Linked DNA regions of Homo sapiens. The protein of the gene in region 1 purifies or fractionates together with the protein of each later gene. This does not show direct contact. Each region holds a gene or a part of one and is shown in the gene's direction. Other genes may lie near its edges. The genes, in order: INSL4, SGSH, HMGCS1 and TESC.

Evidence for each region.
Region 2: the proteins of INSL4 (region 1) and SGSH purify together in Homo sapiens (affinity purification with mass spectrometry; one large-scale study listed by BioGRID and IntAct). This does not show direct contact.
Region 3: the proteins of INSL4 (region 1) and HMGCS1 purify together in Homo sapiens (affinity purification with mass spectrometry; one large-scale study listed by BioGRID and IntAct). This does not show direct contact.
Region 4: the proteins of INSL4 (region 1) and TESC purify together in Homo sapiens (affinity purification with mass spectrometry; one large-scale study listed by BioGRID and IntAct). This does not show direct contact.

The regions. Positions count from the first base shown.
Region 1 is NC_000009.12:5,229,195-5,235,502, forward strand, and holds INSL4 (early placenta insulin-like peptide precursor), read left to right. Parts: upstream 1-2,224; 5' UTR 2,225-2,329; coding exon 2,330-2,525; intron 2,526-4,459; coding exon 4,460-4,683; 3' UTR 4,684-6,110; downstream 6,111-6,308. UniProt on the Homo sapiens protein: May play an important role in trophoblast development and in the regulation of bone formation.
Region 2 is NC_000017.11:80,210,334-80,213,833, reverse strand, and holds part of SGSH (N-sulphoglucosamine sulphohydrolase isoform 1 precursor), read left to right. Parts: coding exon 1-30; intron 31-1,559; coding exon 1,560-1,763; exon of another isoform or gene 1,764-1,910; coding exon of another isoform or gene 1,911-1,965; intron 1,966-2,646; coding exon of another isoform or gene 2,647-2,786; exon of another isoform or gene 2,787-2,822; coding exon 2,823-3,382; 3' UTR 3,383-3,500. UniProt on the Homo sapiens protein: Catalyzes a step in lysosomal heparan sulfate degradation.
Region 3 is NC_000005.10:43,291,624-43,297,434, reverse strand, and holds part of HMGCS1 (hydroxymethylglutaryl-CoA synthase, cytoplasmic), read left to right. Parts: intron 1-268; coding exon 269-433; intron 434-1,517; coding exon 1,518-1,683; intron 1,684-2,573; coding exon 2,574-2,744; intron 2,745-3,272; coding exon 3,273-3,379; intron 3,380-4,461; coding exon 4,462-4,587; intron 4,588-4,797; coding exon 4,798-4,961; intron 4,962-5,811. UniProt on the Homo sapiens protein: Catalyzes the condensation of acetyl-CoA with acetoacetyl-CoA to form HMG-CoA, which is converted by HMG-CoA reductase (HMGCR) into mevalonate, a precursor for cholesterol synthesis.
Region 4 is NC_000012.12:117,088,415-117,094,225, reverse strand, and holds part of TESC (calcineurin B homologous protein 3), read left to right. Parts: intron 1-537; exon of another isoform or gene 538-552; coding exon of another isoform or gene 553-574; intron 575-5,811. UniProt on the Homo sapiens protein: Functions as an integral cofactor in cell pH regulation by controlling plasma membrane-type Na(+)/H(+) exchange activity. Promotes the maturation, transport, cell surface stability and exchange activity of SLC9A1/NHE1 at the plasma membrane.

The DNA.
Region 1 (6,308 bases):
TCAAGTCTGCTTTCCCAAACATTCCTTCCTGTGCTAAAGAACAAAGCCGGAAAAATAACGGATTCCACTTTAGCTGGGAGATCTGTCATGGGGAATAAGCTCATAGCCTCCAGTTAGGCAATTATAACATCCTAGACTGGAGCCCCTGTGGCCATTTGTAGGGCAGCCTTACTGATATCCTCATCCATCATGGCATCGATCACAGTTTCATAGCCTCGTCCCATTCCCTTATGATTTGGGCCGATGGGAGGATAGGATATCCCAGACCCCGAGTAAAGTTGATGCCTCCCCAAGACACTTTATGTTGCCTGGGACATCTTAGCACCTCCCTTGACACCTGGCATGGGACATATCATAATTACAGTAACAACTATACTATAACCTTTATTCATAATCACACTGATCAGTCCCTAATTTGCAACTCCATCCATATGTTTTCCTTATGGGAACTAATATTTCTATTACAACCCAAAATTCCATGTTTGTGACCCGGGTGCAAGGACAGGCTTTGTTTGCCTCATGTACCACTAATTACAATATATCTAATTTAAATACTACTAGTGTCATGGTATTAAGGAGACAATCTGAGGCATTCCTACCCGTCAATTTGACACACTATTGGCAAGGTTCCTCTTCCTTTGCCACCTTAGAATGTGCCCTATCCCAGGTCAGACCCAAAAGATTTATAGGCACACTTATAACCTTTATAGTCTCAGCCATAGTCATCCTAGCAACTGCTAGTGTGGCTATAGCATCTACTACCGAATCAGTGCAAACAGCTGCTTTTGTAGACAATTTGGCCAGAAATGTGTCTAATGAACTTCTCTTACAGCAGGGTATAGATCAAGAGATTCTTGCACGTCTGCAAGCCCTCGAGGCTGCCTTGGAATTTGTGGGGGAGCGACAAGATGCCCTAGCATTCTGATAGCAATTAAACTGTGACTGGGAGCATAAACATATCTGTGTCACATTTTTACCTTGGAATCAATCAATACATAGTTGGGATGAGGTGAAACAACACCTCTGGGGAAACTTTCATGACAATTTAACAGCAGACGTAAAGCAACTTAAAACTAAAATTTTAGAATCCCTTCACATGATAGATCTACATACTCAACAAACAGCCATATGGAAAGGTGTGCAAGATCATTTCTCCTGGTTATACCCCCGATCCTGGGGGTCACACTTTGACTGGAAAGGAATGTTACTAATTATACTCATGATTGTCTTACGTTATTTGCTAATTCTATGATGCAAAGCCGGAATAAAAGCAAAACCTAACAAACCTGTTGCTGCACACATCTGTACTCTTAAGTCAACAGAACCCGATGCAAAGAACAGAAAGGGGGGAGATGTGAGAGTTCAGTCAGGCTGGTGGGAAAATTTTTTCAGATAGTTATAAGAAAAAGACGCAAACCTTTTTGAAACGCCGGAGGGGTTTGTATAAGCTCCAGTAATAGATCAGGCTGAAGGCAGCCTAATCCTTACCTTGAGTTAATAGCTTAAGGCACAGATACAAATGAATGTAGTTTATCTAGTTTGTTTACTCATGTGGTCCTAAGACTAATCTTTGATCAACCGCGGGTGCATAATTGCTCTCTACTCGGGAGGTTGGCAATGTCAATTACCTTCTAGTGGTGTTTACTCAAGACCTTCGTCATTTAATCTATGCTGAATAAATGTGAGCTTTGCTGGCTGATCGGGGCCACGGCTGCAACTCTTTACAGCACCCTCCTTGGTGTCTGTAGGTGGCCCGGACCCTCAGCTGGACTGACAGGCAAACTATCTGTGTCAGTGTATGTTATTCATCCGTCGTTGGGTCAGGGTCTGTGGGACAGACCCCCGCAATTAAAAGCTTATATGCCAAATGTTAACTAAGATAATTTCTAGCCAATGAGCTTACAGGTCAGTTCTATTTTTATTTCATCTAAGCAAAGGACATTAAAAATTACCATTATTTTAGTAAGCATAAAAATAGTATTACAGGAGGAAAGTTAAGAAAAAGAAGTAGAACAACCAAATTCAAAACAAGCAAAGTGCAGCAGCACATTGGGAGCAAAGAGGGATATGAGAGTGTGGGTAGGGCAAGTAGGGAGACTAAATAAGAACTGAGGGAGAAAGTTCCTTGTAGGTGGGTGGGAAAGGGGTGGAACTGACACCATTGACGCAAAAGCTGAGTAATAGCCCTAAGCAAATAAATGCCTGATGAAGGCATGCAGAAAGCAGTCTGGAGCCCAGAAGGGACACACCAGCACAGTCTGGTAGGCTACAGCAGCAAGTCTCTAAAGAAAGGCTGAGAACACCCAGAACAGGAGAGTTCAGGTCCAGGATGGCCAGCCTGTTCCGGTCCTATCTGCCAGCAATCTGGCTGCTGCTGAGCCAACTCCTTAGAGAAAGCCTAGCAGCAGAGCTGAGGGGATGTGGTCCCCGATTTGGAAAACACTTGCTGTCATATTGCCCCATGCCTGAGAAGACATTCACCACCACCCCAGGAGGGTGGCTGCTGGAATCTGGACGTCCCAAAGGTGAGAGCCCTGGACTACCAAACAATCAGAATGAGGCCTGAAAAAACAGGCTCCAGATCTCATTGACTGCCTGTAGTCAACTCAGACTCTACTGTGGCTAGTGCCTACAAGTTTGTGGTTTTTCATTGTAATGTGCTTTTATTAAAAGGGTCTCACCAGAAATCTCATGGGAAGTTGGGGGTAGAGGAGAAGCTGCAGGAAAAACAGAAGAACAGCCTCACCTTGGAGGCTCTTGGTGCCTTTCCCACCTGGCAGCCAGAGATACAGGGTGGAGAAAACAGGGAATCCTCAGAGAAGGTGACTATTCTCAAACACCAGCAGGAGGTGAGGTGTACTCCCAGACCCCCAGGAAAGCTGGGCAGGCCAGAAAACAGGTGTGATTGCAATGAGATGCCTGGGCCAGGCATCTTCAATTAAGAAGAAAGGGGACAAACAGTGAGGTGATGAGCTGATTATCATTTCTGTTTATGCACCTATTGGCCTAGGGGCAGCACACTGAGACCTCTGTTAGGTTCCTGGAATGTGAGATAAAGGGGGCTTAGATTTAATAACTCTCATCCTTTGTCATTAAGCTGGGCAGTGGTCTATGTCACCAAAAACGTCCTCTTACAAAAAAGTTTTTTTTAATGCACACCAACAGAGCACCTTGCCTCCCATTTCTTTGAATCTACTCTTGTAGTGTGTTGAGAGAGATGAGATGAAGAGAAAGAAAGTGGCCTGGATGACTAGAGGGGAAATTGAAGGGGACCAGAGACAAGGGAATTTCACTGTTCAGACCATCATAGCTGATTTGATTAGTGTTTTCAACATTTGAGACTGCAAAGCATTTTCTTTAAAAGCAAGATTTCAGAATTGAGGAAAGTTCAATACCAGGATAGTTTTCAAACTTTACCAAGTAACAAGGTATTCATAAAGATAAATTGCCAGCTAAGTTAAAACTAGCAGGGGCAGTTTCGAAAAGAGATAGAGGCTACTATATTCTGTCTAATAGGTCGTATTAAGTTCTGAAAAGCTAAGTTAAATTACTAAACATTGTTTTACATTTAATACAAATGACACAGGTTTTGAACCAGCAATGTGTGACTCCAGAACTGCTTCTTGTAACCCATATGCATACACTTCATTAAATCATTAAATGACTCTGTTTAAAGTTATCGTGCACAGTGAATGCACTTGGATTTTGTGTGATTTATATAACGATTTCAAAGTTATTTCCTTTTTTTACATTATTAGTCAGAGCTTGTTTCATTTTACTATAAAATAAGGGAAGAATACCACAAAGTCCAAACAATTTCTAATGCAAACTAAGGAAGAGCATGCTGTACTATAATTTCTATTTAAATTTCACTTTTTTTCAGTAAATAAGTGAAAATCCTCATTTAAATACTTTGACAAATATAGATAAATTTAACAAGAAAAATGGAAAGTATTCATGGATAACAAATGTTAACATTTGGTGTCGACACATATAGATGTATGTTGCTTCTCAGCCTTTTAGCTAAGATCCACTGATATAGATGTATAGATTTATGTGGATCAGATTTGAATATCTGAATCTTTCTATTAGAATAACTTGTGATTATAAAAAAAATTCCCTATTGCTATCCAGTACATAATGCATTGAGGTTATCAATCAAAACAGTGTCAGGGAGAGTCAAAAGTGGTATGGTATAGGCATTTAGAGGGTCATTAGAAGAGTGCATAGAGGGGACAGGATGAGGAGTTAGCATATCCTTAATATTGTAGTATCTTAAAGTGCCCTACTCTAAGTAAGCTAAGTTGTTGAAATGTTAGGATACTTGCTGATTCTCTCTGGTGTTTAATTACATGGAGGCAATGGGTACATTGTGGTCTAGGCAAATTGTATAATTTTTCTGATCCTCTTTCACATGAATGTTTTTCCTCACCTTTCATTCCTCTCTTTTACTTCACAGAAATGGTGTCAACCTCCAACAACAAAGATGGACAAGCCTTAGGTACGACATCAGAATTCATTCCTAATTTGTCACCAGAGCTGAAGAAACCACTGTCTGAAGGGCAGCCATCATTGAAGAAAATAATACTTTCCCGCAAAAAGAGAAGTGGACGTCACAGATTTGATCCATTCTGTTGTGAAGTAATTTGTGACGATGGAACTTCAGTTAAATTATGTACATAGTAGAGTAATCATGGACTGGACATCTCATCCATTCTCATATGTATTCTCAATGACAAATTCACTGATGCCCAATTAAATGATTGCTGTTTATTAGAACATGAGAATCATTATTAGTATTCACATGTTTCACTTGCTCTGTACTAATATAGTCTCTCCAAATGGAGGAAGTTAGATAGATGGAATAAGTTCTAGTAGTTGATAGTACAATGGGGAAATTATACTTAACAATAATTCACTGTATATTCCAAAATAGCTAGAAGAGAATTGTAATGATTCCAACACAAAAAAGATGAATGTTAGTTTGGATGCATATCCCAATTACCCTGATTTGATCATTACACATTATATACACGTATCAAAATATCACATGTACTACAAAAATGTGTATAACTGTAATATGTGAACTACAAACTTACTGGAAATAAATTTTTAAAGTTTTACACACATAAACACATACGTTCACACACACTCACTCAAGTCTCTTCATTTTTCCTCTTTTCACACTAGAAGAAATGTAAGAGATAAAGGATCTAACCATCTCTAACATCAGCTCATAGTACGGAGGAAAAGCAGTGAAGGAATGAACTGGTGGGAGAGGTATTAGGCATGTTCACCCTAGGGTAAACCCAGAGACCTCCCTAGAACTTTGCCCAATGCATATCCTCCACCTGCCTCTCAGCACGCTGCCTTTAGACCTTCAATCATTCTATAAACTCCTCTTTTGTCCCTGGCATTACTCCACATCCCCTCATCAAAGTGGTGAATTGGCACAAATACTGGCATTCCTCTGGCTACACATACCTCCTCCCTATGTGTCTCTAAATCCTAAATCAAAGAGTACATTTTATACTCTGTCAGTGAGGTTCTACTAGTTGTGTTTGTTTGTTTGCAGGCTAACTGAAGCTGCTACTACCTCATTATCAGGTCCTATAAACTTAATTCAAGTGGCATGATTTGAGTAGCCCCCTGTGCCTGCCCATAAAGTGCTCTGAATCTAGTGTGGGACATGGAGAAGCAAAGGATAATAAGTGCAATGATACTTGTAGGTCATCATAGAGACTGTAATGATCCACAGGAATCAGGGTCGTGTTTAATGCCAACATGTGAAAGAATAAATATACAGGGAACAGTGTAGGTAAGAGGAGAGAGCAAAATTTCCCTAAGGAAACTGATGGCTGATCTGCATCTTGAAAGACATCTAAGCAGAAGAGAGTGCAAAAAGGGACAAGTAGAAGCCCAGGAAAATGCACAAAGGCCTGGAAGCATAGCATGTGTGGAAACAGCCAGAGTCAGCAGGGCAGGAGGTGGTGTGGAGAAAAGGAATTGTCAAGATCTGGTTGGAATGGAGACAGGAGAGAGGATCTCAAACGATTCCACACAATGCAGCTATGGGGTTTAGGCTGCATCCTGGAGTAAGGAAGAACTGCTCATGATCTTGATACATCTCTCATAAAGAACTTTTTCCTACCAATACTCTATTGAAGATGAAGAGGGATCATGGGAGTCATAGGGCAGAACTCATAGATTATACTGTACAGTCTGAACTGTACCACCTGGTTTGCCTAGACTCCTCTAGATTGTTCTTTGAGAACAAAGGGGAGAAGCGCATAAGGTGTATTTCTTGA
Region 2 (3,500 bases), on another chromosome or scaffold:
AGTACACCACCGTCGGCCGCATGGACCAAGGTGGGCTTGCAGAACCGGGCACTGGAGGGGGTGCCACGGCCGGGGTCCCCCATCCTGGGCCAGCGCCCTCTTAGGTCACGGCATAATGTGGGTGAGGGTCCCAGTGTGGCAGGCCCTGTGCTGCAGCTGGCAGAGCCCACATTGAGAGGAGGGGCCTGTGGGTGGCATCAGGACCCAACCCCGGGGCTGCCCTGATGTGGACCTGCTCCTGGGCTGGGGCCTTCGGGTGCCCCAGAGGTTGCGTGAAGACTTCAGATATTTCCAGTCACAGGACCTGGGTCAGATTTGGGGGTTTGGAGTTCCTTAGCATATGCAGATGGAGATCTTGAGGTCTGTGAGTTTTTTGTGGTTGATGGCTTACAGCAACCAAAATTTGTACTCCCACAGTTCAGGAGGCCAGAAGTTTGAAATCAAGGTGTCAGCAGGGCCATGCTCCCCTGAAGGCCTAGGGGAGACCCTGCCTTTCCTCTTCCAACTTCTGGGGGCTGTGCCAGTGCTGGGCGTTCCTGGGCTGGCGGCAGAATCGCCCCCATCCCCGCTGAAGCCTTCACATGGCCTTTTTTCCTGTGTCTCCTCTTTGTGTCTCCACTTCTTCTTTTTTTTTTTTTTTGAGACTGAGTCTTGCTCTGTCACCCACGCGGGAGTGCAGTGGCGCAATCTCGGCTCACTACAACCACCACCTCCCAGGTTCGAGCGATTTTTCTGTCTCAGCCTCCAAAGTAGCTAGGACTGCAATCGCACCGCACGCCACCATGCCCAGCTAATTTTTATATTTTTAGTAGAGACGGGGTTTCACCACATTGGCCAGGCTGGTCTTGAACTCCTGACCTCGTGATCCGCCCACCTCAGCCTCCCAAAGTGCTGGGATTACAGGTGTGAGGCACCGCGCCCGGCCTGTTTCCGCTTCTTATAAGGACCCCGTCGGGTTTAGGGCCTACCTGAGCACTTCAGGATGATTTTGTCCCAAGATCTTTATTCGTGAAGTTCCCCTTTCCAAACAAGAACCCCTTCACAGATTCCAGCACACATGTCTTTTGGGGTCAGGGACGACAGGAGGTCAGGACCTTTGCCATTTCCCTATTGGTGCCATTAATTCTTAGTGAGCTGGGAAGGAGCGGGTATAGAGGAAGCCTTGTCCTCTGGCCCCAGCTGGGAAGGAGCGAGTATAGAGGAAGCCTCGTCCTCTGGCCCCTGCCCTATTTGCTCCATGGGACAGACACGAGATTCCGGAGAACTCAAAAGCCGGCGGGCACCAGGGAGCAGCTGCCTGGGGGTGACACAGAAGTGCCAAGGGATGGCTGGAGTCCCTGGAGGCCCATTCGAGGCCTGCTCAGGGAATGGGAGCTGGGCGGAGCTGGGCAAGAGCTGGGCAAGAGCCAGGGCCATTGGGAAGAACTACAGGGTGCTTTCGAATCCGGAAAGCGCTGGAGCCCAGCGGCCGGATGCAGCAGCAGGTGGGTCTACACACACCACCCGCTGCCTCCCTCCGTGTCTGCGGCTGAGCTCTGCTTCTCGGCCCCTCACCACAGGAGTTGGACTGGTGCTCCAGGAGCTGCGTGACGCCGGTGTCCTGAACGACACACTGGTGATCTTCACGTCCGACAACGGGATCCCCTTCCCCAGCGGCAGGACCAACCTGTACTGGCCGGGCACTGCTGAACCCTTACTGGTGTCATCCCCGGAGCACCCAAAACGCTGGGGCCAAGTCAGCGAGGCCTACGTGAGCCTCCTAGGTATGCCTTTGTCTGTCTCCGTCAGGAAAGGTGTGGGAGTGGATCTGGGACGGGGCCATGACCTGTCAGATGCTGCTCCACACCCATTACCTAATGTGGCTCTCATATCATCTGGGTGAGGAAGGGACTGTCACTCCCACTCTACAGAGGAAAAGAATGAGGCTCAGAGAGGTGAAGTAAGCTGCTCAGGATTGCACAGCTGGTAAGCACTAAGCTAGGATTCTCGCCTGGATCCTGCTGCTTTCAAAACCATTGCCTTTTCCCCGCCTACCTCCGATGAGCTTCAGAATCACCTGGGATGCTTGTTAATATCCAAATTGCAAATCCCAGGGTGTCCGATTCAGTAGATCTTGGCGGGCTCAAGAATTTGCATGTCTGACAAGTTCCCAGGTGATGCCGATACTGTGGGCCTGGGGACCCCTCTCTGAGCATCCGTGCACCCCATCCTGCCTTCCTGGGGGACCCAAAGCACCTCATGACCCTGCTCATTCCTAAAAAGACCTAGGACATCTAGTCCCATGTTATGGATGTGCAGACAAAGACACGGGTGCAGGAAGACTTTGTGAGGGGCTCGGGGTGACCCCTTCGGCACAGGGCAGAGGCTCGTGTGTCCTGCCCACTGCCTGGCAGAGCCTCCAGGTGGGGTGGGCCCGGGACAGCAGGAAACTCAGGTTCCCTTTCCCTCCGAGCTCGCGGCCCACATCTCTCTTGGGGCCCACATCTCTCTCTGGCCCCAAATGATGAGCCAGGAGCACTGTGGCCACACCCACCACAGGGGCTGGAGTACACGAGCTACCAAAAAGGAGACTTCTTTTCCAGTCCATGGGATTTTAGAAGGATCCTAAATGTCACCGAATCAGGGCCTCTTGTTATACCATTCAAGGCACTGAGGCCCAGAGAGATGACGTGGCGGTGAGAGGTGTCGGCTCGACAAGGCACCTCCCGCTGCTGATTGGATTGGAGAAGGGAGCCGCCCAGAGTGGCGTAGGTTCGGCCCTTCCGAGGGCAGCTCCTGTGTGCTGAGGGCTCTGCTGCTCTGAGATGCCGCGTCCCTTCCAGACCTCACGCCCACCATCTTGGATTGGTTCTCGATCCCGTACCCCAGCTACGCCATCTTTGGCTCGAAGACCATCCACCTCACTGGCCGGTCCCTCCTGCCGGCGCTGGAGGCCGAGCCCCTCTGGGCCACCGTCTTTGGCAGCCAGAGCCACCACGAGGTCACCATGTCCTACCCCATGCGCTCCGTGCAGCACCGGCACTTCCGCCTCGTGCACAACCTCAACTTCAAGATGCCCTTTCCCATCGACCAGGACTTCTACGTCTCACCCACCTTCCAGGACCTCCTGAACCGCACCACAGCTGGTCAGCCCACGGGCTGGTACAAGGACCTCCGTCATTACTACTACCGGGCGCGCTGGGAGCTCTACGACCGGAGCCGGGACCCCCACGAGACCCAGAACCTGGCCACCGACCCGCGCTTTGCTCAGCTTCTGGAGATGCTTCGGGACCAGCTGGCCAAGTGGCAGTGGGAGACCCACGACCCCTGGGTGTGCGCCCCCGACGGCGTCCTGGAGGAGAAGCTCTCTCCCCAGTGCCAGCCCCTCCACAATGAGCTGTGACCATCCCAGGAGGCCTGTGCACACATCCCAGGCATGTCCCAGACACATCCCACACGTGTCCGTGTGGCCGGCCAGCCTGGGGAGTAGTGGCAACAGCCCTTCCGTCCACACTCCCATC
Region 3 (5,811 bases), on another chromosome or scaffold:
TTGTCTTCAGTGTAGTAGAGTAACTGTGAACTGTTAGAGTTATGAAACTGACATGGAAAGTTGTATACCAAAGGAGTCTTAGGACTGTCCATGGATACTGTTATGTATCATTTCACTTATATTGGCTTCAGCTTGCGATTTCTCTACTGTAAGTGGTGAGAATTGATCAGATAGTTAAGGAAGGTCCTTAGATAATGCAGTATACTTATTAACATACAGACATCAAGAAGCAGAAATATATAGACATCTTCCTTTTTGGTTCTAATAGGGCTTCGTGGGACACATATGCAACATGCCTATGATTTTTACAAGCCTGATATGCTATCTGAATATCCTATAGTAGATGGAAAACTCTCCATACAGTGCTACCTCAGTGCATTAGACCGCTGCTATTCTGTCTACTGCAAAAAGATCCATGCCCAGTGGCAGAAAGGTAAGTTTTACCCATTTTCCTTGGTTTTGGTATGAGTTGAGAGCAGTCTAATGTACTAGGTATCTTTGGTAGGCAACTACTTTGTGGGCATTCTTCATTTAATATCCTTTTACCATTAATTCCTCATTCACCAAACAACATTTTCCCATAGTTTCTGGGAAAGTGTAATTTACTAGAAGAGGTAAACTTTGGAACTGAGGTGTATCTCTGCAAAAATATTTAGGTCGGTTTACCCCTTGTAAGAAAATCAAAGTGGAGAAAAGAAGGTAAGTTGAATTTTGTTCATCTTTTGAGAGAGGTATTTTAACAAGGTTTTGGACTACAGCTGTGATTCAGGGAAAGCTAATGAAAATGAATTACTAAAGTGATCTTACCCCAAAAATAATCTTTTTGCACTTGACCTGTGAATTTGTATTTGTTTTTTTACTGTTATCATTAATCTGGAAATTTGTTGAGGCACTGAAAGGACAGTATTTGAGTTAATGCTATCATAACACATTATTACATAAAGTATACTTTTTCTGTAGTCCAACTTTGCTTTTTAGAGGTTATGAGAAGGGGTTAAAAATCATATTCAATGACAAATATCAGTGAATTTAGTCGCTCTGGATAAGAAGCATTCTTGCAGTATATATTAACAGAATAGTGGTTTTCTAACTTTTTTATTAGGACCCACAGTAAGAAGTACATGTTACATTGTATGTGTATGCCAGACTGAAACAAAAATGTCATGACATTACTTACCCTTGCTGCAAGTTATTCAGTTTGCTATTTTTCTACTGCATTTTGTTTTTTAAAATACTCTTTTATTTAAAAAAAATACTAATCCTGACCCACTAAATTGATTATGTAACCTGCTAATGTGTATGAATCTTAAATTTGAAAATTAGTGACATAGTACATATTGTTTCATCTTTGAGTGTCTTTTTAAATGTATACTTTAAGGTATAGAGAGGTTTCATTATACAGTGTATTTGTGGTTGCTGTTTAAACATATACAAATATCCTAGCTTTATTCTAAAGTCAAACTTTAAAATTTCATGGCTTATATGAATTTCATAGTTTCCTTGGACTTCTCTTTCAGAGGGAAATGATAAAGATTTTACCTTGAATGATTTTGGCTTCATGATCTTTCACTCACCATATTGTAAACTGGTTCAGAAATCTCTAGCTCGGATGTTGCTGAATGACTTCCTTAATGACCAGAATAGAGATAAAAATAGTATCTATAGTGGCCTGGAAGCCTTTGGGTAAGAGGAGCTATTATGAGTTTTTTCCTTCTATATTAGAGCATTTTTAATATCTGTTAAGCTGTTATTTGTACAGACCTGAGAAATTGAGAGTCAGAAGAATCTTAGAAGTCATCCAGTCTAATCTGTGTGTCTCAGTCAGTGAAGAATCTAAGTCCAGAGAGGTGGTAGTTAACATGCACAAATTCTTTAGACATTTCTATTCAGATTTTCTGATTTATTTCTTTCAGCTCCATTCATGTTGTCACGATAAAGTAACTGCACAAGGGCCTATATTCACTACAGCAGCCTCTTAACTCCTTACCTCTCTCAGCACCCCTGCCCCCATGCCCTTTTCCATCCTGCACACTGCCACAGCTAAAGTCAGCTTTTGTACTCCACCTGTCTTTTTCTCACTTTAGGCTCCCTAGCATGCTATGTGTGTTCAACTCGTTCTGTTTCTCCCTGTGTCTCTTGTGTGTCCTTTCTCTATCTGATAAAATTATACTTGACTTTTAAAACTTGGCTCCTGTAATACCATGACTTTTCTAACTAAATAAACATTATTATGGACTTGAAATAGTATTCTATTCAGTTGATGAATATTCAGTTGATTGAATATTCTATTCATTGAAGCCAATATAAGTGAATATAAATATAAAGCTACAGTGCGTCTTTTAACCTATTCAAATCAAGCAGGCTTAACTTGATTATGAAAACTTTTGAGAAAAAGAACCATATATATACAACTGTTATGATTTCTATAGCAATTAGATTGCTGCTACTTGGCTTTTAATAAATGAGAAAACAATTATATACACTTAAAGATTTGAATCCTAATTAGGCCTGCTGTTTAGTGTAATAAAAACATAGGCTTTAAACACTGTAAAACTGTAAAATAAATCTTTCAGGGATGTTAAATTAGAAGACACCTACTTTGATAGAGATGTGGAGAAGGCATTTATGAAGGCTAGCTCTGAACTCTTCAGTCAGAAAACAAAGGCATCTTTACTTGTATCAAATCAAAATGGAAATATGTACACATCTTCAGTATATGGTTCCCTTGCATCTGTTCTAGCACAGTAAGTATAAATTTCACCTACTACTTAACTCCCCTTATTTGGGAGATGTTAGATTTCTAAGACCAAATCTAGTGTCAAGCATGTTGGTGGTAGATCACAGAAAATTTTATCTTGAGGCTCTCTAATCTGCTATTGTCCATTGACTTGAAAGATGTATGGGTTGAGGCTACAGTTCTTCCAGAAGTATTTGTTAATTTCATACTGGCTTTCCTGGCTTCTGTTTTCATGGTTTTTTAATTCTTGACCTACAGTTGAACCATAAATACCTGGTTGATGAAGTAACTTGTTTTGTGGCATGACTTTCACAAGCTCTGTCATTCCCCACAAGATGAAAACTCACATGCTGCAATATTAAAACTAAGTTATATTCCCTACTGCAATATTAACACTTTGAGTTAGATCCTTAAAACTTTAAGTTAGATTCTACTTTTACTTATAGCCTAAATTTTTATTGCTACTTTTATAGCTTCCCACACGCTGTAGCTTTGGATCAGTTAAACTTCTGAACTATTGTTACACCCTACATAGGTACTCACCTCAGCAATTAGCAGGGAAGAGAATTGGAGTGTTTTCTTATGGTTCTGGTTTGGCTGCCACTCTGTACTCTCTTAAAGTCACACAAGATGCTACACCGGGTAAGTGCTGAATCTTTCAACAAGAATGTATTGAGAACTGAGTCCAGGCACAGTGGCTCACACCCGTAATCCCAGCAGTTTGGGAGGCCGAGGCGGGCAGATCACCTGAGGTCAGGAGTTCGAGACCAGTCTGGCTAACATGGCTGAAACCCCATCTCTACTAAAAATACAAAAATTAGCCAGGTGAGGTGGTGCATGCCTGTAGTCCTAGCTACTTGGGAGGCTGAAGTAGGAGAATCACTTGAATCCAGGAGAGGGAGGTTGTGGTGAGCCAAGATCACACCACTGTGCTCCAGCCTGGGTGACAGAGCGAGACTCTGTCAAAAAAAAAAAAAAAAAATGTATTGAGAACTACTCTGGGGAAGTTGATTTAGCAGTCTTCTCAAGTGAGCACCTGAATCTGTCCCACAGATCATTACAATATTTTAGTCTTCATTACTTCTTTCAGTAGGTTTTTACTCTCTGCCCTAAAAATCTATCCAAAAAAAAAAAAAAAATTCTACCTTATCTGGATAAAGGATAGGACTAAGTTATCTAATTTTTATAGGCTTATGGTCTTGGCTATATTTAAGGTCACTTTTGTGCTTTCCCTGAGCAGGAAAGAGCAAAAATGTAGAGATAAACTGATGAAAACTTGACATTACTTTTTAAAATTATACCATGGGCCAGGTGCAATGGCTCACACCTATAATCCCAACACTTCAGGAGGCTGAGGTGGGAGGATTGCTTGAGGCCAGATGTTCAAGGCCAACCTGAGCAACATAGTGAGACCCCATCTCTATAAAAAATAATAAAAATAAAATAATTGTACCATGGATTAATTGTAGACAAGTTATTTATAGTTTCAAATTATGCCTGTTTCCTAACTTGTCTAGTGGCAGATACTCAATAATAGATTTCTAGTCTGACATCATAGGAGATTTGTCAAATAGGTATCATCTTATCTTTTAACTAATCAGTAGCCAGTAGTTTTAATGAAAATGAAAAGTTGTTTTGCCTCATTTGGCAACATTTTACTTAGGCTTCTTTTGGACATGATTTTTCAAAAAAATCTTTTAATGTTGAATTATTCACTATTTTAGGGTCTGCTCTTGATAAAATAACAGCAAGTTTATGTGATCTTAAATCAAGGCTTGATTCAAGAACTGGTGTGGCACCAGATGTCTTCGCTGAAAACATGAAGCTCAGAGAGGACACCCATCATTTGGGTAAAAATATTAAATGTTCTTTAAGTTAACCCATTTGGAGGGCTGATATCATTAAGGATGCTACATATACGATAAGGATATCAAGACTTTACTCAGTACTAATCTGATGTCAGTGAAAATTATTGGGATATATGAAACTTATCTTTAGCTTTATTACCAGATGAATTGTATATCATAACTAATTGTAGATATTCTCTCCCTTTCCTTTAGTCAACTATATTCCCCAGGGTTCAATAGATTCACTCTTTGAAGGAACGTGGTACTTAGTTAGGGTGGATGAAAAGCACAGAAGAACTTACGCTCGGCGTCCCACTCCAAATGATGACACTTTGGATGAAGGAGTAGGACTTGTGCATTCAAACATAGCAACTGAGGTAAATAAAAGAGTTCCCATCTCCATATCTTAGGGTTTAGGAGACCTAACTGGGATTTAGCAACATAAATAAATGTCAGTAAAGAAGAGTAAGGGCTCTGGGAGTAGATTCTAGCTGTACTATTTCCAATTGTATAAAGTGCTTTGCATTTGAATTATTAATATTTTAAGAATATACAGTAAAGGCCGGGTGCGGTGGCTCACGCCTGTAATCCCAGCACTTTGGGAGACTGAGGCAGGCAGATCACGAGGTCAGGAGATCAAGACCATCCTGTCCAACATGGTGAAACCCTGTCTCTACTAAAAATACAAAAATTAGTTGGGCTTGGTGGCACGTGCCTGTAATTCCAGCTACTCAGGAGGCTGAGTCAGGAGAATGGCTTGAACCAGGGAGTCAGAGGTTGCAGTAAGCTGAGATCACACCACTGCACTCCAGCCTGGCGACAGAGCAAGATTCCATCTCAAAAAAAAAAAAAAAAAAAAAAAAGAATATACAGTAAATACTAGGTTTTATTAATGATACCAGGATTTAAAGGAAGACTGATATAGAGAGAAGGTTCATTTGTGGTGTGTGTCTTTGTGAGAGATGGAGTAGAGGGACAAGGATCCTTTCACATCTCATCCCAGATCATGGTCAAAATCTGTCCTCAAATTGTCAAGAAGTAACAATCATAGCTATGATTTGAATTCCTGTTACCTGCTAGGCACTTTACTTACGTTTTCTTATTTAATCCTTACAACAACCTCCTTGAAGTTTATAAATGATACTGTCCTCCCTTTAGAGATGAGCCTCCAAGAAGTTACATTACTTGCCCAGGATTATAGGTAGTAAGTATTAAAGCCAGGTTATA
Region 4 (5,811 bases), on another chromosome or scaffold:
TTGATTTAAACCGGAAACGAGTATTCCCAGGAATCTTTTCTGAGCCAAGAAGGCTCACATCTAGATTGTTAAGATTCATATGAAAAGCCCGAGCGAAGGCGTCCCGGGGGTGTGATTGAGCTCACCTTCCCCACGCACCCGTGGTGACAGCAGCCAAGTGGTGTCTGGTGTGTGGACCGAGGTACAAAGTGGGACCTGACGGAGAGAAGGGCTTCTTGGGAATTATTCACCTGAGTCAGTTGTCCTTCACCACCTTGAGCTGGCCCCACTTCCTGTCCCCCCCATCCGTGTCTGCTCCTGGAGTTGGAAAGGAAATAATAAGACAGAGGATTCTGGGAAAGGTGGAGGGTCTGTTTTTTCCTTCAGGCTCCAAAACAGCTCTTCAGGCATGTCTATGTTGATGCCAAGAAGCTGCCAGAAGGAAAAGGAAAAAAAAAAAAAAAATCTCCAGACCTAGAGTTCAGACCTCATGATGGTAAGAGCTAATGTTTCTCGGGCGCGTGGCATCTGCCACACGTTCAGCTGAGCCAGGCAGCGTATCCGCAGTAGCTGATGGAATCCTCCCAGGAACACGGTTGGTTTCCCATTTTACAGATGCAGACATTGAGGCTCAAGAGAGGAGGTGCCTGCCCAAGGCCACAGGCATCATAATGAGAAGTAGAGTCGCAGGCTGGTGCGGTGGCTCATGCTTGTAATCCCAGCACTTTGGGAGGCCAAGGCAGGGGGTTCGCCTGAGCCCAGGAGTTGGTGCCACTGCACTCCAGCTTGGGTGACAGTGCGAGACTGTCTCCAAAGAAAAAAAGAGAGTCGGATTCCATTCCTGGTCTAATCTCATTTGGAGAAGGAGCTAGAGATGGCAGGGAGGACTGGCGTAGCCAAGCGTGGCTGGTGGGGGTGGCGCTGGTTTCTCCACTGCGTTCTCGCCCCTGGGTAATACTTCTTGGTTCTAAAGTCTTTAAGTGGCCTCAGACGGTGGCCTCGGCTCATTCACCAATTGCCATATTCTGCTACCAGGGTGGACCAGATGCGGTCCCTGCCCTCCAGAAGCTCAGGGGTTCCAGGGGGACAGGGGAGCACCCCAACAACTGTAGCATAGCGGGAGGAAGGGTCTGATGGGCCAGGGTGGACCAGCCAGCTCCACACTGTTCTGTCGTCCGCCAAAGCTTGGTAAGCTGAACAGCCAACCAGCCAGTCCCCCGTGCCTTTTCTCTTCCTCTGGGCTAGGTTGTGGCTTTTCCCCTGGCATCTTCAGGGAGTCCATGAACCCCATGAAATAGGATGTGGAATTGTCTGAGTGCCTCTGGGGAGGGCCCTCTGCCCTTGTTAGGGTCTCTGAACAGTGAAGTGTTTTCCATTGTATGGAAATCATGCCTCAGTAAGAAAATGATTCAAACAATTACTTTTATTGATTGTTTAAAATTAATTTGTTTTTGAGATGGCCCTGCTCTGTTGCCCAGGCTGGAGCATAGTGGTGCAATCACAGTTCACTGCAGCCTCTAACTCCAAGGCTCAAGTGATCCTCCCACCTCAGGCTCCCTCCTCAGACAGTGGCTCCTCAGCAGAGGAGGAATGAATGTGTCCGTGAAACCAGGGGGAAGGACCAGTCCTGTATGCTGAGCTCTGGGGCGGGGGGAGACCCTGGCCTGGAGTCATCCACAAAGTGGTCCAGATCATGGGACCCCCCCAGCCTCTGGAACCCTTTCTGCCTTGACTGGATGGGGGCTTCCAGGCCTCCCCTGCCCTCCTCTCTGGGGGCTCACAGGGGAAACTTGCAGGAGAATGCCCGCTGTGGAAGCTTCCCACAGGGCTGGGGATCAACCAAAGGCACCTGCCTGCTCTAGCCCATGCTGGTATTTTTCATTCTGTTCACCTGGGCCCCATCATCTCACCATCTGTCGCAGCCACAGAGCGGGACCCTGGAGGATGGCGTTCCATGTGCACTGAGCTCGGTGCTGGAGCCGTCCTGTGCCACTTCGCTCAGATGTCTCATCCAGGCTGTGTCCTTCTTTGAGCCACCAGTTCCGCTCCTTAAAAAACGCAGCCAGCTGTGAATGAGGTGACAGCTGCTCTTTCTTGAGCACTTGTCAATCATCTGATCTGCCGAAAAGCCCTTTGAGGGTGGGACTATTGCTGCCAGTTTATAGATGGGCAAACTGAGGTTTGGACAGAGGAAATGACTGCCCAAGATCACTTAGTTGCTGGGTAGGGAATCCAGACTCAAAACCAGGCCTTCTAGTGGGATTTGCCAAGTGCAGTGCCGGGAGAAACCGCCTCTCCCGCATGCCGAGAACCCCACATGCTCTGGACTGAGACTCTGAGAGTCGGCACATCTGTGTGATCTGGGGGAGGCCATGCTGTTACCCCACAACCTCGTCAGTAGAGTTCCACACATTGTTTACCAAGTCGGCAAGGGGAGAACTGAACCTTGAGGCAGATAGGATTGGTTCTGGGTGATGTGGAAAGTTCTGGAATCTAGGTGGGTTGCCCCCAGGGAGAACAAGCTCAGTAGTGGGCAGTGGGAGGGGAGTGGGGACCACGGCTGGGAGGAAGAGGCAGGAGGGTGCCGCCCCCTCTGTTTCCTAGGGTCTCACTGGGTGGCTCAGGTCTGTTTCAAAAGAATTTGTGTTTTCTCTGTGCAAGCCACTGGCAGTCCTCTCCAAGACGTCCTCGCTCCGCAGATTGGTGGTAATTAGATCCCCGCTGCATCTTTCTTTCTTGCCTCCCCTACTGCCATCCTGGCAGGATATTTTTTTGTGAGTTAATGGTCTCCAGAATGTATCGTGGAAATTTAATCAACTCTCAGACATGCCATACGGCCCAGTAAGACAAACAGAATAACCTGGGTGTTGATAAGATGCTCTTCCCTTTGCAAAGCACTTTAGGATCTGTTATCTCGAGCTGAGGGAATGAGGTGTTTTCAGCTCAGAAGGGCTCACAGTTCTGGGAAGAAAACTCAGGGCCTCTTTTGTTCTTTTGTCCATGCTGGTGTGACTGTACAGGGTGAGGGCCTGGGCACCCCTGGTCCTGCCAGCCTTCCTGTTGCCTGCTCCAGCTTAATTATTAATTTATAAAACCAGAAGGTCGAGTGGGTGATTTCCGCTGGTGGTGGTGGCCACGGAGCACTAGGACAAAAAGGCTCTTTGTCGTCCCAGCAGTGTGACCTTTGCAGACCGGCACTCTGTCAGGAGCAAGCCTTCCGTTCTTGGCACTGCTCCCTGGCAGGTTAGTGGAGGTCTCAGGGCCCAGGTGCCTCCAGGAGGAGGGCAGGTGGCCAGGCCGGAGACAGCAGTCCTCAAAGGGGGGCTGTAGAGGCCAAAGGTGGGCTGCAGAGGCCAGCTTGCCCCAGGTGCTGAGGTTGGAAGAGGGTTCCCTAAGCTCCTCCTGAGCACCTGTGCCAGAATCCCAATGATCAGAGAACCCTGAGCAAATACCCAGCACTTTGCAGGCCTCACCCACCTGGTAGTTCTAAGGGGGTTCTTGCCCTTGCCTGCATCCCCCCAAGGACCTCAGCCAGAGTCCCACTATGGCACACAGGTGGCTTCTCACCACCTGTCCTTTTCCAGCAGATAGATGTGGGTTTATATCATGGTATTGCCTCTTACTGTCTAGGCAAAGCACTTTGCCTCCCTGAGCCTCAGTTTCTTCATCTGTAAAATGACAGCAAAAATAGAACCTGTTTCACTGAATGTTGCGAGGATTAAGTTAGAATTTGGGCAAAGCTCTTGACCCATCCTCAGTGCTTGAGAGTTACTGGCAGTTACTAATCATTTCAACTGGGAACACTTCAGGAGCTGGCTATGTATCTCCTTTTAAAAGGCATGCTATAACTTTTTTTAGTAATTCATTTCATTTTTTATATGTCTGCTATCTTGGACATGCCTAAACTTAATCACCATCTCTGCCCTTGTGCTCATAATTGGGGACCTTAATGTACTTTAATTTGTATCACTCCATAGTACTTAAGAACCTACATATTCATTATTATTCTATGCAGACACTATTAATTCTTGCAACCACTCTTCCTTATGGATATAGTTTTCTTATTTAATGCATGTTTCTGTAGATTTTTCAGTGAGGCTCTGTGAGTTGTAAACTTTGGAAATATTGTTATTTTGCAGGCATGCATGAATGAACATTTGGCTGTGTGTAAAATATAAGGTTGCTGGATTTTTTTTTTTTCAGCGATTCGTTTTTGGTCTTGTTGCTGTTGAGAAATCAGCTGTTAGTCTAATCGACATTTCTTTGTAGAAACCTATTTTCCCTTTTCCCTGTTTTAAAATTTTTGTCATTGGTGTTTTGTACATGCTATGTCTGGGTGTGGATTTATTTTTATTTATCCTGGGAATGGTTTATGTTGTTTGATTCTAAAGAAAGATCATATCTTCCATTATGAAAATATTATCTCTCCCCTTTCTCTTTATCTTCTTCATTAGTAATTCCTATTAGACAAATGTTGGTTCATCTCATTCTGTCTGCATGCCTCTTAATCTTTCTTTCATATTTTCTTTTTATTTCAGCTGGGTCATTTCCTTAGATCCATCTTCCAGTTCACTAATTCTCTCTTCAGCTATTACAACCTTGCTGCCTTAACCTATTAAATTTCAAAAAATTGCAATGACTTATAAAAAAAGTTTATAAGTGCTATATAGTTTTCAAATTCACCTCTTTTTCATAGGGTATGGTTCTTCCATTGTTTGTAATAATTTAAAGCCTACTATATAGTCTCTTCTGTTTTGCCTTCTTGGAGTGCTATTCCTTTTGTTAATTGTGTCTGCTGTTCTCCCTTATGGTGGTTCATTTGCTTGTATGGTTTGGTTTTTTGATTATAAGCTCATCTTTGGGCTTTTTCCCAACTCCCCTTGGCCCTTCCCCCTACCACCCCACAGGATTCCTGTGTGCCCTGGGTTTTAGAAGAGCCTTACACAGTGCATTTGCATTTCTTGTGCTAGGTGTCTCAAGCTTTTCACCAGTCTGAAAACACTTTTCACATTAACTCCTTGGTTTGGGTCTCCTGCCCCACAGAGACTTGGATTTTTCACCAGTGTGTGGCTCAGTCTTGGAGTTTGGATTCATTGCAGAAGCCTGCTCTTTCCCCTGCCGTCTCCCTAGCAGAGATGGCTGTCTTATTATTCTCTGGGCCAGTGGGGAACGTTTTTTCTGACCCACCTGATGTGCAGAGGCAGCCTTTTGTATTTCAGCTTTTTAGAGGGGTCTCAGCTCCAGTTCATGCAGACCCAAGGCCTCTTCTGTCACTCAGTGGACTTGAAGTCCCCACCCTTAGCTGTTGGAGCCTGAAACCATTCTAACACCTGGGCCACCTCAGCAGCATCTGTCACTAACCCTGCTGGTTCCTGGTCTCTTCCTTGCCCCTGGCACTTGGGTATTGCCCTTTCCTTCCATTTAGCTGGACATTACATTTGTTTCTTGTTTTATCCAGTGTTTGTAATGGAAGGTAGAATCTGTATTATATCCAAGTAGCAGGACCTGAAATTCCTGATCTAAGTGTCCTACTGAAGTAAGCCTTGTACATTTTTTTTTTTTTTTTGAGACAGAGTCTCACTCTGTCGCCCAGGCTGGGGTGCAGTGGCACAATCTCGGCTCACTGCCACCTCCGCCTCCCAGGTTCAAGTGATTCTTGTGCCTCAGCCTCCTGAGTAGCTGGGATTACAGGCATGCGCCGCCACGCCCAGCTAATTTTTGTATTTTTAGTAGAGACGGGGTTTTGCCATGTTGGCCAGGCTGGTCTCAAACTCCTGGCCTCCAGTGATGCACCCGCCTCAGTCTCCCAAAGCGCTGGGATTACAGGCATGA